2 separate regions of the Homo sapiens genome follow, and region 2 is linked to region 1. The links come from fine-mapping of genetic effects on gene expression. A gene starts in region 1. The other region holds a variant in brackets. All regions are shown on one strand. Distances are from middle to middle.

What was found. PIP is the estimated chance that this variant, and not a neighbour inherited with it, causes the effect.
Region 2: its variant is the best candidate, but not a certain one, in a credible set for the expression of SLC12A5-AS1 in cerebral cortex (GTEx, PIP 0.51).

Annotation. Positions count from the first base shown.
Region 1 is chr20:46,020,586-46,023,497 of GRCh38, forward strand. It overlaps SLC12A5-AS1 (SLC12A5 and MMP9 antisense RNA 1), which reads right to left and starts at 1,488. Exons shown (of 3, transcript NR_147699.1): 1 at 939-1,488. It also overlaps a transcript of SLC12A5 not described here. RefSeq lists silencers at 999-1,158, 1,179-1,538.
Region 2 is chr20:45,978,661-45,981,572 of GRCh38, forward strand. No RefSeq gene overlaps it. Among named protein-coding and RNA genes, the nearest start is that of ZNF335, 7.9 kb to the left of the region's middle. The variant G/A (reference allele first, on the strand shown) is at 1,708.

The sequences.
Region 1 (2,912 bases):
TATGTGTACGTTCACCTTCAGTAGATGTTTCCAAATAGTTTCCCAAAGTAGTTTTTGCCTAACTACACTCCCACCAGCAGTGTGTGAATTGCCAGGATTTCTCCTTGACTTCACTCTTATGGTCACGTGTCACATCCGATCCATCAGTGGGTCCTGATGGTTTCACTTTCAAAACCTAACTGGAATCAGACAACTGCCACCACTCTAGTCTGGCTGTCATCACCCCCCAGCTTGGGGTCTGCAGGAGCCTCCTAATTAGATTTCCAGCTTCTACTCTTGCCATTCTTTAGTTGAACCTTCGCCCAGCAGCCAGAATGATCCTGTTAAATTATAAATTGGATCACATCATTCCCCTGCTCAAAAAATCCAGGATCCTCCCCAAAGCCTTCAGAAGACCACATGATCTGCCCTTCTCTCCTCCCTCATCTCCAGTCACTCTCTTCTCCACTCACTCTCTTCCAGACACAATGGCCTTGCTGTTTCTTGGACAGTCGGGACTCCTTCTCACTCCAAGGCTCTGCATTTGCTGTTTCTTCTTCTAGAGAACTCTTCCCCCTAGATCTTTGCATAGCTGGCCCTTCTCATCAGTGAGGTCTCAGCTCAAATACCACATCTTCTAGGAGGCCTTCTCAGGCCACCCCTAAAGTAGTCCTCCCTCTTACCCATTATCCCATGGCCCTAGTTTTAAACATACATCCAATCTCAAATGATCTCATCTATGCATTTGCTCACTTATAATCTTTTTCTCCTTATTAGAATTTAAGCCACTTGAGGGCAAGAAGCCAGTGGATCTCATCCACCGACGTATCCCTCGCACCATTGACCGAAACACAGGAGCGCTATCGACATGTGCCGAATGAATGAATGAATGAATGAATGAGCCCCAGGTGTTTAGGAGACCCTAACAGAGGTGCCCCCGTTGTAGGGACGACTCTCACCTGCAGATGGCCTCCTCAGGCCCTTCGGGTGGCACTGGGGAGCCCAGGGCCTCCCAGCGAAGTGGCCAGATTCAGGAACCCTTCGCACAGCGGGCACTAGGACCCTGCGCGGCGCCGCGTCTCGCGGGGGGCGGGCGGGCGGAGGGGGTTGGGGGATCCGCTCTTTCTCCCTCCTAGAGCCTGGTTGCAGCCACTTGTGCGATCCCGGACCTTGCCGCGGCCGCCTGGCTCCTTTCCGCGCCATGAGCCGCAGGTTCACGGTCACCTCGCTGCCCCCCGCAGGGCCCGCCAGAAGCCCTGACCCAGAGTCCCGCCGGCATTCGGTCGCAGACCCCCGCCACCTCCCGGGGGAAGACGTCAAAGGTAGAGGCCGCAGGGGGCGGGGCCTGCCAGGGCCGGGCGGGACGAGGGGGAGGGGCCGGGGCGGACCGTCTGTTGAAGGGGGCAGGGCCAAGACCGGGGGCGGGGAGGGGTCCCAGCCCTAGGCCTGAGAGGGGAATGGAGCCAGGACTAGGAAACCAAGGGGCCGGGGCCGCGGAACGCAAAGTGTGGAGGGGGAGGGGCCAAACGCGAGGTGGGCGTGGCCACGAGGGAAAGGGGTGGGGCCAGGGAAGGGGTTTGGACGGAGGCGAAGGGGGCGGGTCTGGTGATGGAAAGGCCGGGGTCAAGGTGGAGAGTAGGCCGTAGGGCACTAAAGGGGCGGGGACATCTCGAGTAGGGAGCGGGACCAGAGTGAGGAGGTGGAACTAGGGAAAAAGGGGGCTGTGTGTTGAAGGGGGATGGTCAGGAGCCCCTAAAGGGGAGGCGGCGGGACTAGGTTGGTTTGGGGTCAGGAAAGGGCGGGACTAGTAGGGAATGAGTTGGGCCAGGAGGATGGGAGTGGGGCCTGGGAGGGGGGTGGGGTCGAGGGCGGGAGGAAAACTGAGTCAGGGTTGCCGAGGCAGGTGCCAGGTCAGCGGGTCCTCGGTGCCTGGCGGATCCTCCAATCCTCTAGCTCCCTGGAGGCTTAGCGGACAGCGACTGGGGATCCCGGGAAGGAGACGGGAGGCAGGGAAGTTAGTATGGATCCTGGGCAGCGAGATTCAGGGAGGATGCCGTAGGGTCGCTGATCCCGACTCTTGGGGACCCACTTAGCTCCTTGTCTGCTCGAGCTCCGTAAGGGTTGGGAGGAGCCAGCTCAGGCGGGGTTGGGGGCGTCTTCCTCGCGGGCCCTGTGCAGGGTCTTGTAATGGAAGTTACACGCAGGGCACAGAGTATAGGGGAGGGGAAAGATCCTTCTGGCCTTCGGTGGAGAAGTAGCATCCTGGGCGCGTGCACAGTCTCCCCTCAGGGGGCACTCATCAGGGGTCCTCTCCCTGGCTCTGAGGCCCTCGGGTCTGGAAGGAACAAGGCGAATCGGCTTGTAGTGGCCCCAGCGAGGGGAGGAGGAGGAGGAGGAGGAGGAGGAGGAGGAAGAGGAGGAGGAGGAAGAGGAGGAGGAAGAGGAGGAGGAGGAGAAGGAGGAGGAGAAGCCTCCCCAGACCGCCAGGGGTCGCTGCCGAGCCGCAGGTGAGCTCGCCCCGAAGCAAACCCAAGCGCCGAAACCCCTAGAGTAACCCTTAGGGGGTTATCTGGCGGACCTCCTCATTGTACAGATGACCAAATTGAGGCCTGGAATTCCGAATGGCCCCAGTCCCGGGAACCGAACGCCTCCTGGTTGTGGCCACTTGGATTTCTTGGGCTCCTTCCACTCTTCATCTTTCTCATAATCTCTTTTCTCATTTTCATGAATGACCTTACCAGCCTCCCAGATTTGAAAGTAAGAAATTCTGGAGCCATTCTCAACCCTTCCTTTTTTCTTTCCAGCAAATCCAACTGATCCCCACGTCTTGGCCATTCACCTCTGAAACTTATCCTGAATCTGGCAGCATCGGTCCCCCCTCTGTCATCATCGCCCTGCTCCAAGCCTCACATGGCCACGACCACATCCTCTCC
Region 2 (2,912 bases), 42 kb before region 1:
ATATTATCTGAGAAGTAGTGTGACACCTTTCTTTTGTTGTTACATTAAGCTGAAAACATAATACTAATAGACGACTAACAGTTTGCTTATCAGGCACATCAACTAAGGCACCTCCCCCCATGCTAAGTTTCTCCTGGATATATGGAAGTTGGTTGTTTCCCAGTTTAAAAACTTGAACTAATATTACCTAAGAAAACCTGAGCCCATATTGTTTTTATTTTACTTAGCTAGAATCTCATAGCATGTTAAAGTCATACCTTATCCCCACTAAAAATAACTATGTCTATGTGAGAGGAATATTATGTGTGGGAGCTGTATTAAATACTATTATAGGTGTTACAGAATCTTTAAATAAATGGACGTGGACCAACCTTCCATCTAGTAGTGTACGATCTATATAGTGCATGTCAGTAGCACAAAATGCAGTCTTAGTTAGCATTAGCCTGTCTAATCTGAATAGTTTACTCAAAAGTACTTCTTTGTGTTAATTATTCAGCCATTGTTTTTAGATCTAGTTAATAGGTTCTATTTAATTTGCTGCAACATTTATTGAATGGGTGAGTGAAAGAACTGATGCATATTGGGAAATATCTTACCATTTTTTAAAGATAATGTTACATTAGGAAAAGAACACTTTTAAGGAATTTATAGCAGTGATGAAATGAATTCAGTCTATATCAGATACACCAAACTGTTGATGGTATTTAAATGTGACTGCAAGTTAGTATTTCTGTATATATTATTGATTACTGGTTTGTTTTTAGATATGTAAGTCTGTCCTAATCTACGGTTCACGTATTGACAGTTGCTCTGGTAATAATAGAATGTTAGTGATGATCACTTGGTGGATGTTGATTAAGTGCCTGTGTTTTGTTTTGTTTCCTCCTCTGGATACCAAATAGGTGTATGCTACTTTTTTGGTGAACTTATTTCTTGGAAGATTTGGTTATGCTATTCAGGGTTTTTATTCTTATGTTTTTCTTCTAAACTTAAGCAGCATCCTGCTGCTACCATATTAAAGCTCAAATTTAACTTTTGTGGAAAAATCAGCTAATTCAGGTAATCCAAATATTTGTGGAAAAACATCTGGGTAATTTATTGACCACATTAGTATTGTGTAGACAGCTTTGATTATTCCCATTGCATAGGTTTTTATTGTAGAATAGTCAACTTAATATAGATTCACTTTTAATTTACATGTATAAAGTAATACTCAATAAAAATTTTTTCATTTATTTAAAAAAAAGAAAACTAAGCAATCTGGCTCTAGACTCCATACTTTTAGATTGCTGTACCATTTCTCATCATAATGCTTGACTCTTAGGTGATATTTTGTCTTCTCCTGAGTCAGGCCTGGTGGTTACTATTTTCCCATTTTACAGATGAGGAAATTGAAGCCCAGAGAGGGGATTTGACTTGCTCAAGATCACAGAAATTTTCTGGTGTAATGGAAGGGGCTGTGAGCCCAGGCCAGATCTCCTGCAGTAGATAATAATCACACTAGCAGTTTTTAATTAATTTATTTATTTTTTTGAGACAGAGCATCGCTCTGTCGCCCAGGTTGGAGTGCAGTGGCGTAAACTCGGCTCACTGCAACCTCCGCCTCCCGGGTTTAAGTGATTCTCCTGCCTCAGCCTCCCAAGTAGCTGGGATTACAGGCACGCGCCACCACGCCCAGCTAATTTTTTTGAATTTTTAGTAGAGACG[G/A]GGTTTCACCATGTTGGTCAGGCTGGTCTCGAACTCCTGACCTCGTGATCCGCCCACCTCGGCCTCCCAAAGTGCTAGGATTACAGGAGCGAGCCACTGCGCCCGGCCACTAGCAGATTGTTTGTTTGTTTGTTTGTTTGTTTTTGGCTTTTTTGTTTTTTCTTTGAGACAGGGTCTCACTCTGTTACCCAGGCTGGAATGCAGTGGTGCAAACATGGGTCGCTGCAACCACTGCCTACCAGGCTTAAACAGTCCTCCCACCACAGCCTCCCAGGCAGCTGGGACTACAGGTACGCGCCATTACACCCAGCTAAATTGTTTTGTATTTTTTGTAGAGATGGGTTTTCCCCATATTACCCCGGCTGGGTGAATGTTTACTGGGTACTTACCAAGTATCAGGGGATGCATTCAGTGTTTTGTATGCATTTTTATTTTTATTTTGAGACAGGATCTGGCTCTGTTGCCCAGGCTGGGGTGCAGTGGCAGACCCTGGCTCACTGCAACCAGTCCTCCCAAGCTCAAGTGATCCTCCTACTTCAGCCTCCTGAGCAGCTGGGACTACAGGTGCACACCACCACACCTGGCAAAGTTTTGTATATTTTTTTGGTAGAGGTGGGGTTTCACCATGTTGCCCAGGCTGGTCTTTTTCTTTTTTAAGATGGAGTCTCGTTCTGTCGCCCAGGCTGGAGTGCAGTGGTGCAGTCTCGGCTCACTGCAGCCTCCGCCTCTCAGGCTCAGGCGATTCTCCTGCCTCAGCCTTCGAGTAGCTGGGATTACAGGCACGCACCACCATGCCCGGCTAATTTGTATTTTTAGTAGAGACGGGATTTTGCGGTGTTGGCCATGCTAGTCTCCTGACCTCAGGTGATCCACCCACCTCAGCCTCCCAAAGTGCTGGGATTACAGATGTGAGCTACCTTGCCCGGCCCTATGTGCATTTTTAAACTACAGTCACAACAGCCAGAGATATTAGATGCTCTCTGCATTCCCATGTTACGGATGAGGAACCTGAGGCCCCAGAGCAGTGACTGTCTGAGGTCATGTGCTTGATCGTCAGCAGAGGTAGGATTCAAACCCTGGCTTACTGACTCCCAGTCCAGTGCTCCTCATGTTGCACCAGATGCCCCGGAAGGGCAGCGGGGTTGAGAGTAGGCAGCCAGCAGGTGGGTCCGAGGGTTCATCTCTACCTGCTTTCTTCATGTCAC